2 separate regions of the Homo sapiens genome follow, and region 2 is linked to region 1. The links come from fine-mapping of genetic effects on plasma protein levels. Region 1 holds a variant in brackets. A gene starts in the other region. All regions are shown on their reverse strands. Region 1 holds the start of LOC124907866 (a long non-coding RNA gene). Region 2 holds the start of KLRK1 (killer cell lectin like receptor K1).

What was found. PIP is the chance, under the fine-mapping model, that this variant and not a neighbour inherited with it causes the effect. Protein levels are from antibody-based Olink assays in UK Biobank. Linkage for the fine-mapping came from a reference panel and not from the study's own genotypes, which makes the PIPs less certain.
Region 2: KLRK1 starts here. The variant in region 1 is fine-mapped to the plasma level of the KLRK1 protein (UK Biobank, PIP 0.97).

What each region holds. Positions count from the first base shown.
Region 1 is chr2:111,047,103-111,052,489 of GRCh38, reverse strand. It overlaps ACOXL (acyl-CoA oxidase like), which reads right to left. Exons shown (of 18, transcript NM_001142807.4): 16 at 3,202-3,272. LOC124907866 (a long non-coding RNA gene) reads left to right here and starts at 2,313. Exons shown (of 2, transcript XR_007087182.1): 1 at 2,313-2,429. RefSeq lists a silencer at 2,344-2,638 and an enhancer at 2,344-2,638. The variant C/T (reference allele first, on the strand shown) is at 2,390.
Region 2 is chr12:10,387,914-10,393,300 of GRCh38, reverse strand. It overlaps KLRK1 (killer cell lectin like receptor K1), which reads left to right and starts at 3,260. Exons shown (of 8, transcript NM_007360.4): 1 at 3,260-3,358; 2 at 4,426-4,530. The coding sequence starts at 4,491. It overlaps KLRC4-KLRK1 (KLRC4-KLRK1 readthrough), which reads left to right. Exons shown (of 13, transcript NM_001199805.1): 6 at 1,410-1,466; 7 at 4,426-4,530. The coding sequence starts at 4,491. The region is part of intron 3 of KLRK1-AS1 (KLRK1 antisense RNA 1); the gene reads right to left.

The sequences.
Region 1 (5,387 bases):
TAACAGCTTCCACCTCTGCTTGGTAGATGGGAAACTGAGTCACAGAGAAGCTGGCTTTCTCCTGTCTTACAGGACCCCCAGCAACAAGGATGTGATTAACAAGCCTTGAGAGTGACTCCAGAAGCCTGCCACCACAGTACCCCTCATGGTTCCACTGCAGTCACACCTCCCGTGTGTGCTCTCATGGTGCTGAAGGGGTGGAGTGGTGGAATTTTCTATGAATTTGCTCATCTGAGTGGGCCCCGCAGGAAGAAGCCCAGCTTTCTGGTCCTAGTTCTATTGCCGGCTGACTAGCTATGCAATGGTGGCTAGTCACTTGTTTTCCTGTCCCTCCTGCTTTTCCTGGTTGTCAGATGAATGTTCTGGCTTATGCCATCTTCAAAATCTCAATGTTTTTGTCTTTGCAGGGGAATCTGACCTTGGTTCAGCCATCTGATGAACCAAGTTCATCTCTTGCATCTTCTTGGCAGTCTGTCTATAGAGCATCTTCTCAGGTTAGGCAAGGTGGAGCTATGTGATTGAGGGAGGGGCTTTTGACTTGAGTCAAAATTAGGCTGCCTGGGACAATCATGGACCATGCCTGCCATACAAGCTGCATTTTTAATGGTACCCCTTTAAATATTTGTGCTCAGATCTCAATTACCCTTGACAATGTAGAATGCAACATTGGAATGTTTGACAATGCAGGAATGCATGCAAAATATAATTTTAAAAAATATCAGCTGGGCGCAGTGGCGTATGTCTGTAATCCCAGCACTTTGGGAGGCCGAGGCGGGTGGATCACCTGAGGTCAGGAGTTCAAGACCAGCCTGACCAATATGGTGAAACCCCATCTCTACTAAAAATACAAAAAATTAGCCAGGCATGGTGGCAGACACCTGTACTCCCAACTAGTGGGGAGGCTGAGACAGGAGAATTCCTTGAACCCAGGAGGTGGAAGTTGCAGTGAGCTAAGATCACGCCACTGCACTCCAGCCTGGGTGACAGAAGAAGACTCTGTCTCAAAAAAATATATATCATATTTGGCCCAGATCTACGTTTTTTGCCTCCAACAAGTTTTCATGAGGTTAAGTTAAATGTGGGAATTTATTTCAGACAGTCTGCAAAGTGGATAGCTCACTAGAGCAAACATACAATCACCTGCAGGCTGACTGTAGTCAAAATAATCTACTGTCACCCTGAATAGGTTTTCTCACATAACATCTACAAAAACCCAGCATACCATTGTCACACCCACATGGTGCCTTCTGATATGTGACATTAGAAAACCTCAATCTCCTAAAAAAAATCATAAAATAGTTTCAGTATATATGAACTCGGCACACGTTTTTGTTCAGTGAAACTTCTTTCTTTGATGATGCCTGTTCAAATATTTGCAAATATTGAGAAAACGCCCACATAAATCATCCTCTGTTGCTGAGGCCACACAGTCTGCAGAAACCAACAGGTAAGACACAAAATACTGAACGCCACTGGAGGTCACGCAAATTCCAGGAAACCTCAGGCCATCTTAGCCTTCCTCTCCCAACCCCAATCTGTTAGTTTCTAACCGAATGTGCTAGAGAAGCCAGCCAGAGCACCATGAAAGTCAGCAAGAAGGTGAAATGGTGAGAGGAGGAGGGGCCTTTGGTTACATCTCTTTTCACCTCTCACTCTAGATGTGAAGAAACTCAGAGGGGGCTGCGGCATCCCAAGTCGGGGAGGCCATGAGGACCACTAGAAGCAGGCCTGGAGGTGTGGTCTCTGGGGCTGGGCTCTGTCGCTGCCCTCTGTACCCCAAAATGCCTCTGAGATGCCCATGTAACCTCCAGGGGAGCCCAGGAGCTTCACCTCCTGCAAATGGGGAGAGATGGACAGTAGGAGAAGAACAAGAGAGAAGCAAGAAGCAAATGGTAGGAGAAAACACAGGATAGAGGGAAGAAAGACCAAAGGCCGGTGAGCAGAGAAAAGAGGTGAGCATCCAGGGCCCAAGAGCTGCTTCAAGGTCATGGAAAGCCAGCCTGCACCTGGAAGGAAAGGTCCTTGCAGAATAGAACTTAAAGCAGGAAACAGAGAATTAAGCGTGGCAAACAAGAAACGCCCATGTGCCTGAATCTATATCATTCTAAGTCAGTGTATCAGACGCCCAGGACTCTGAAAAATCAGGGTTCCCAGACAAACCCAACACTTGGTATGAGCAGCGCTTCTTTATTATAAAACTAACATCACTGAAAGCTTTTTTTTTTTTAAAGACCAAAAATATCACATCTTAGGCAAATGAGTTGAAAATCCCTCAGAGTGACACCCTATTTTTTTTCCACCCATTTCTAAAGTCAGAGGACACCTGGTAAAGAAGCTGGTTTTTAGATAAAGAAATGCAATTCCTGGTGCACGCGGTTTCCTGGTGGTA[C/T]AGCACTGAAGTGACATCATGGAAATATTTGTACCTCAAGGTCAGTCTGCAAGGTTTCTGTGTGAAAGCATGAGTCTTAGTGGTGGGAAAGTATGTGTGTGCACCTTTGTGATCTGCTGCTGTTTACTGCTCTCTGCTTCAAAGACAAAGTTTTAATTAAATCCAGGTGGGCAGCTTGCCAGGGTTTTCCACACTTTTGGCTCACCTAGGTAGGCAGCCTAAGTGCAGGTTATACCATTTGGAAATGCCTCTGCTCCTGTCACTTGGAAGGAAATAAAACAACTGTTCCTTGGGGCGGGGGGTTGGGGGGAAGAAGCTTGTCTTCCACTCAAGGGCAAGGAATCTATGACATAAGATGCTCATTCTGGTGGTGAATATGAACAGTCTAATTTGTGTAGCATTCCTTAAGGTGCCAAAAGTAGGAAGCAGCAGACTGGGAACGTATGGAATCCTTTGTCTTAATTAAAAATATAGTGGGAGATGTGGAATTTGGCCAAGCCTCATAAATCTGCTAAAAAAGCATCAAGACTCCATCAGATAAGTTTAAATAGAACCAACTGAGCCCTCTGGAGAGTTAAACAGATTCCCCACTCATGTGGACACCCACTCTCCTGTCACTTTCCCGCACTCCGCAGGCAGCAGTGGTGCTCGTTAACCAGCAACCCTCCAATTCGCCTATGACAAGCTTATCCCCCTGGAGCACACGATTCAGACATGATAAATTTACTCCCGCTTGTAAAAATGAAACTCTCCTCAGGGCAATAAAAACGCTCTGAGCCTTTAGGAAATAAGTTCTTTATCTGATAACCTACCTTCATTAACAAAGTCTGGTCCTCTTGGTCAGGACAGCTCTTCACTGCTAGGGAGAACTGCTCTAAGGTAACTGGAAGGGAAGAAATGGAAATTGTGAATGACTTCACTTCCGCCTCAGAGCCCTTCTGATGTGAAGGAGGACACTGTGGTTATAACAGACGTAAACAGCATGCTGTCCGTCCTTCCTTGGTGACATGGCAGAGCTCCCCAACTGTCCCCTGCATGGGTCAGGGGCCCCCGTACAGTGACTTCTCCACCCCATCAGACAGAGTCATTACAGTAGAGTACAAGGCCATTCCCATCAGCAAAGCTCCTCCCTAAACTGCCAGGAGGTCCTGGGTTCAGCTTCCTTTTGGGTCATCTTGTCCCCAGAGATGACACTCTATCTCCATTTCCTGGGACCTTCATTGAGAAGACTCCACCTGCCTTTGTAAATTTGACAGTGCTAATTTAAAAAATCTCAATCTTCCATCATGATTTCCATGGCTTTAACTCTTCTCTTGGTGTATGGCCCCAAGTGTTGACTCAAACCCCACAAACTCCCCCAAATATATAAAGTCGTCTTTCTCCAACCAACCTTCTCAAGGAGAATAGGGAAGAGAAACCCAAGAAGATTTACGAGAAAAAAAAAAAGTTTTAGTAATCCATTGAAATTGGCCATGAAAGCTCTAGGAATATTAATCTAGAAAATTTACAAAATTACATTCCCCTTCTCATATTTATGGCCAGGTTCTCATCAAAGGCTCACTTATGTGGTGACCAATTTTTATTTTGGTGTAAGTCACAGACTGCCCTCCTGTAGGCTGTGTTGACTACATTGTTTCATGCTTGAAAATGCTCCCACAATTCTCTGCCACCCTCAGATTTAAAACCACTTATTTGACACGCATTAAGGCTTTTACTAAGTTAACCCAACTAGTTTAGCCTTTGATTGCTATACTCAAAGCTGCGTTCACTCTTTACCCTCTATGACCTTTCATTGCTCTCTGCTGGGAAGAGTTCTGCCTCTTGTCTTTGAGTAGAGCAAAACTCAGTCCTCCAACTGAACATCCCAAGCCCACCCATCCAGCCAATAAAGACATTGATTGCCCTCTGGTCCCATCCCAACTCCCGCAGATCCCACAAAGGTGGGCAGAGCTAAACTCAGCCTCAAGGCTGAGGGACAGTCTGATTCCAATGATTTGACCTCAAGCATGCCTGGATGTCATGTCTACAAATACAGATATTTTAAAGAGAACTATATCAGCAATGATGAATTTTCATCAAGAAAATATTGTCTGGGTAGGTTGTTTGTAGTTTTCAATGTTACTCTAAAATAGAATTCCTTAGACTGCTTTCATCTCTGACTAAATTACTCCATGCCATCTTGACTGCTATCAGTTGTATCTGGTGCTGATTATTTCTTCCAAGTTTAAATTTTGCTCTATCCAGTCAAGACATACTTGGGATCCATAGAGAGATCAATGTTGCCTTCCACATGCTCTCCAATGCATATACCCACCCAGTCTTCAATTGGCAGAAACCAGTGTTAATTACATAGAATCATCAATTTAATCTTTTTTAAAAATTAACTTTGCCTATAAAAGTGGCTCAGCAGAAACTTGTACATTGAGATAAGGGCCCAAGCTGTGTTAAGTTTACACGAATGCTTTTGCTGTCACTCATTCAGAATACACCTGCCTGGGAAAGACCCTGGAGGCAAGACCTCTCTCCCTCAACTCCGTCCTCAGTTTTGGACTTTTGCTGTGATCTGATTTGGTGTGATAACATATTGATCTCTGACTACTGTCTGAGGATGGCTAAAGAATAATCTACAAATTCAGGTGCTAGGTTTTCTTTAGATCACCTTTTTAAGGTGGCTATTTTATTTGGTAAAGGTTTATGCTGTAACTTAGAATCTTACTTAGTGCAGGTCAGGGAAATTGAAACACTTGCTTCCTTAGAGAGCTACTGGATTCTCACTGACAGCTCTCTCCTCTCTGTGGTGACCCTGTGTTCATACTTCTCACTGCCTGTGCACTGGACTCCACTATGATACTTTTCGTTATCATAGACATAGCACCCACTTCAAGTTACCTTGAACTCTGTACATCCAATCCAAACCAGTCAACTTCCATACCAAGCCAGCCCTTTCCAACTTTTTCCCATTTCTGTGGGACTATCATCCTCCAGCCACCAGGCCACT
Region 2 (5,387 bases), not on the chromosome of region 1:
CAATCAAAACAATGGTGTGTCCTAGCATGGATTAAGTTAATATAACACAAATATTTGCTAAAGATATTTCAATTGAATTGCTAAATTTTAGAATTATACAAAATTTCAACTGAGATGGGGCAAAAAAATCATTTAATCATTCCTGGCTTAGGAAGCTGTGCCAGAGAAAATTAATTAATTGCCAAGATGATGACCTGTTTTTCCCCAAAGTATAAATTCCAGATTTATGGAATCTCTGCCTTGAGTTCATATAATTACAATACACCAGTTAACATTATATGTCAGTATGTGTAGCCCAGTACTTAATACCTAGCTGAATGGAAAATAGGTTCTGAAAATATATATATACATATTTCTTAAAATATGTTTGCAGACTTTTTTACTTTTACATTAGTCATCATTTCACTTCTGCTTCAATATGCCCATGCGTGTCCAGACGAGACTGGATGCATCATGGTGGTGTGGCCATAGATGCCCCTGCATATCCAAAGACTCAGCTCTATTTCTTCCACTCCTTTTTATTTTCTTTATTGTCCATGTGAATTTTAAAAATTTGTCCTTTTTGACATGTCTTTTGTCAATTCAAACACATTTACCAAAAGGTCAAGATTACAAAATTTTTGCTTGGCAATAGCTGCACATCTTAAGCTTTCATATTTGGGCAAGCGTCCAGTAAACGCCTCTGACCACATCCAGCTTTAGTGTCACAGCTTGAAGCCAGCAACCTGCCAAGCACTCTGTTTCTAACCACAAGTTGGCTGCGTGTTAAGTCTTTCCTGTGTACCAGAAGAGAAGGGTTTTCTGAGGCCACAGTGCGAGTTAGCTTACTGACCAAAAAGGCCGGTTGATTGTTGGCTCTTCTCAACTAATGAAAGTAATTAAATAGTTTATTGTGGTGATGGATGTTCTCAAATGACTTGAGCCCAGGCTGTTTGCAAAATATTGTAATTTTTCTTCTAACAATAGTTTTTGAAAGTTATATAGATACGTCTATATGAAGTTTGTTCAGGTACTTTTATAGTCAAATTATTCTTTCTGCAGAAGTTAATTGCGTTGGTTTTATTTCACTTATTAGAAAGTATTTTATCTGAAAACTATGCTATGTCCTTTTGCAATTCACATAGAATAAACCAGTACAAATGCCCAGCAAATCCCCAATAAGTTTACTATCATGACTACAGCAAAGTGAGTGTATGTTCAACATTGAGAAAGAAATTGGAGTTTTAACATACTATTTCTTTATCTAACTAATTGTTTTAACCCGACATACAGGACCCATTTTAGAATTTTCTTCTTTAAGAATCCTTTCCACACTCTGTCAGTTGGTTTAGGGACCTTTATATATGACAATAAAACTCTCCCTGGTGCTTAGCTTTATCATGGTATTTATTTCAGAAATCTTCTTTTAGGTATGTGTGGGGACTTCCCAGTTGGCTGTAAGTTGCCATTTGAACTAAACGAAATAGGTAGGATATTCAAATGTTCTTTTTTATCCTATTCCTATCCCCCTTTTCTCAATTCTGTATTTAAGAGACAATCTCTATTCAATCGAAAACTACATATATAAAAATAACTCTTCAGGAAATTGTGATTCAGGTTTTTCCCATAAAAAGCCTGCATTTACTCATTTATTCATTTCCTTTCAAAAACCAAATATTTGTTAAAATGTAGTTGTTAGAAAATATCAGCCTATATTTCCTCTATATAGATCTATTTTTACTATATAAAATAGCTAATAGAAAATGTTGATTAGCTGAAAAGAATCTTGGTATGTCAGAAAATAACATATTTTCTTCAACTTGTTTTATATTCACCTATCTTGTTTAATTTTGAATTTGTTTTATACTTATTCATTTTATATCACCTAAACTAAAAAGTAATTTCCAGCTGGGTGTGGTGGCTCACGTCTGTAATCTCAGCACATTGGGAGGCTGAGGCAGGAGGATCACCTGAGGTCAGGAGTTCGAGACCAGCCTGACTAACATGGTGAAACCTCGTCTCTACTAGAAATACAAAAATTAGCCAGGTGTGGTGGCACATGCCTGTAATCCCAGTTATTCTGGAGGCTGAGACAGGAGAATTGCTTGAACCCAGGTGGCGGAGGTTGCAGTGAGCCGAGATCGCCCCGTTGCACTCCAGCCTGGACAACAAGAGTGAAACTCCATCTCTTAAAAAAAAAAAAAAAAAAAGTAATTAATTTCCATGTGGGCAAAAACTTTCTTTTGGATTGTTTACTTTGACATTCTCAAGATCTAGAAAAGTGCATAGCAAATAGCATTCGCTAAAGAAAAAAAATGTTGAATAAATTTATTGTCCAACTTTAACACATCACCACATGAAAGCTGTTTTCCTTCCTTATATTTCAGAGTTTTAAGATTAATAGCTTTGGTTTTTGTTAAAATGTTATAATGTGTTCATCTTATATTACTTTATATGATGTCTTATGTTAGTATTTTAAATTAATAAACATAAAATATATATTTAGCTTATCTTGTTCATTGGTATCAATTCATATATTATTCTTATGTATACTGGGGTATATATTTAAGTTTCTAATTCTCCTGCATATGATGTAGATATGACAGAGATGCAATTTCATGTTTTTTATATTAAAATTTAAAAATTCCCAGGACTAATTTTTTGTAACTTAAAGGCCAGTGTGATAGTAACCCAGGACAAATTATTGAATAGGAGCTAATTTCCCACTTTATCTGCAATGTTACCTTATATTTTTTAATCTATGCACATGACTTTTTCTTGTCTGTATTTTTACCCTTCTCAATTTGTCTATCTATGCCCCACATGCCACTTTGCCTTTATTAATACGGTTTTAACATAGGTCTTACTATCTAGTAAAACAAGGCTCCCACATTTTCTTCATCTTCAATTGTGACTTTCCTAGTCTTGACTTTTGTAATTTAATGTACATGTAGAATTCTGCTTTGTAAGTTCTACAACAAAACCTGAGGTATTAACTGGAATTGAATTGAATCTCTAAAATATTTAGGATTAAATGGCATCATTTAAATTCATCATTTTCAAATCCTAAAATGTTATTTAAAATAATGGCAAAACTACAATTACTTTTGCACCAACCTAACATTTATCCAACAATGGGTGGTCTTAACTCTTTTACCAAATTAACAATATTTTTGTAGTGATAAGGCGGAAGTACTGTGGTTTATGTTTTTCCACAGGAAGATGAGATTATAATATTTGTCACATCTTTCTCAAAGATAGAAATTCACTAAGTATCTCCACTTTCAATTCTAGATCAGGAACTGAGGACATATCTAAATTTTCTAGTTTTATAGAAGGCTTTTATCCACAAGAATCAAGATCTTCCCTCTCTGAGCAGGTGTGTGTATGTGTGTATGTGTGTGTGTTTATTATTCAAGATATGAGAAATTATATTTCAACCTCAAAAAAATAAAAATATTTACACTATAAGGTAATTCTAATTGTTTCTTAGATGCTTGAATAGAACTCCTGAGGATACGGAATGCTTATCATTTCTGATGTATATTCTATCACTGTATCTGATGATAGGTAATTAGGATATACTTATTGAAGAATCAGAAGTTGTAATATTACTATAAGAAGAAGCCTTGTCTCTAAGCAAAACTAGAAAAATGAATCTTTACATTTAGGATGAGAAGAATTGAGATTCAATTTAAATTGTCAAATTTTTGAGTTTTCTGATGCTGTAGGGGGCACTTACCTTTGATACACATCTTTACATGCAAGGTGAAACAAGTTATATCTGTGCTTTCCAACTATCATAATCAAATATGAAATAGCTTTTATTTTTGAAATCTAAGCACTATGCTTATTTATTAAATGGTTTTTTCTGGAAGCTCTGCTGTGCATTGCTAAGATGTTACTATATAAACATGTGAGATTAGTTTTGTTAATGATGATGGTGATGATAATTTGTTGATGATGATGATATGGGCACGTTGGATTAAAATGCACTAGAAAAGGACATTCAACAAAAGTGCATATAACTTACCTGAGTTTAGCTTGCAGAAAGAAAACTAAATTATTGCCAGATAAAATAAACAACTGGAAACACTTGATCTTAGCTAAAAGGCCAAGAAGCAATAAACGACTATAAACAGAAAACTGGGTGTGTTGTTATCTAATATCAGTAAAGTAAAATATTGGTATTAAATATCTCAATGTAGGTGAATTAATAGGTTCATTATATTGTTATGACATTTTGAAGTAATTGGCGATTATTTTACAACCAAGAGAAATGTATAAAATTAATTTTGCCTGGCTTTATGTGAATTGTCATTTCTATTCTTTTCTTAAAGGCATGCACAGGGGAAAAGTTTCTGCATTTTACTTTTCTATTCAAAATATTTTATCTCACCACGGGAAAGAGAACAAAAAACAAATGCCCAGTTTTATTTTATTCAGGAATCCTTTGTGCATTGAAGACTTTAGATTCCTCTCTGCGGTAGACGTGCACTTATAAGTATTTGATGGGGTGGATTCGTGGTCGGAGGTCTCGACACAGCTGGGGTATGTTTTTACCACATAAGTGTGTAGTTTTGTTTTTATACAATTTTAAGATACCAAGAATTTCATACAAGCATATAAGGCATAGGCAAGCAATTTACTCTGATTCTTTTCATGTTCTATTTATGTTGATTTCATGTTATGTTCATATTGTATTTTAAATCAAGTCTTCCAAAACTTAAAAACTTTTTTCCCTTTATTTTATTAACTATATTATGGTAAAGTCGCTCACAACTTGGGACAGCTTGAAATAGTGAAATAGATGTGGAGTCAGACTTGAATTTTACTCAAACTTTTACCGCTCTCTAGATTTGAAGGGTCAATTTGCAACCTCTGTGTAGTTTAGTTTAGTTTCTTTTTCTATCAAATACAGGCATGAAACATTCCATATTTATCTTAGATTTGTGTAATATTCAAATCAACTGACATGTATGTTAAAGCACTTTTTATCCTAAAGGTGTTTATAAATTTATAACTTATTCACAGTTGGTAACATTATATTAAATAAGCTTTATGATTTTGGCCATCTCTAGCATTCAATTTCTTCATCCATAAAGTGATACCTACTCTCTTTACTCCATATGTAAAATAACTGAGTTAGGTATTACATGCGCAATCAATGTCTAATTTTACCTATAAAATATAATTCATATTATCATTTAATTTATAAAAGGCTTTTGTACAACAAACCCCCGTGACATGAATTTACATATGTAACAAACCTTCGCATGCACCCCTGAACCAAAAATAAAAGTTTAAAAAAGGCTTTTAAGTAAATATTAATCATCAGTAAATAATTAATATTTCAAGAGAGCAAAATGATTCTTTAGGTATTTTGTTCAGAGGCAAGATTATCTGTC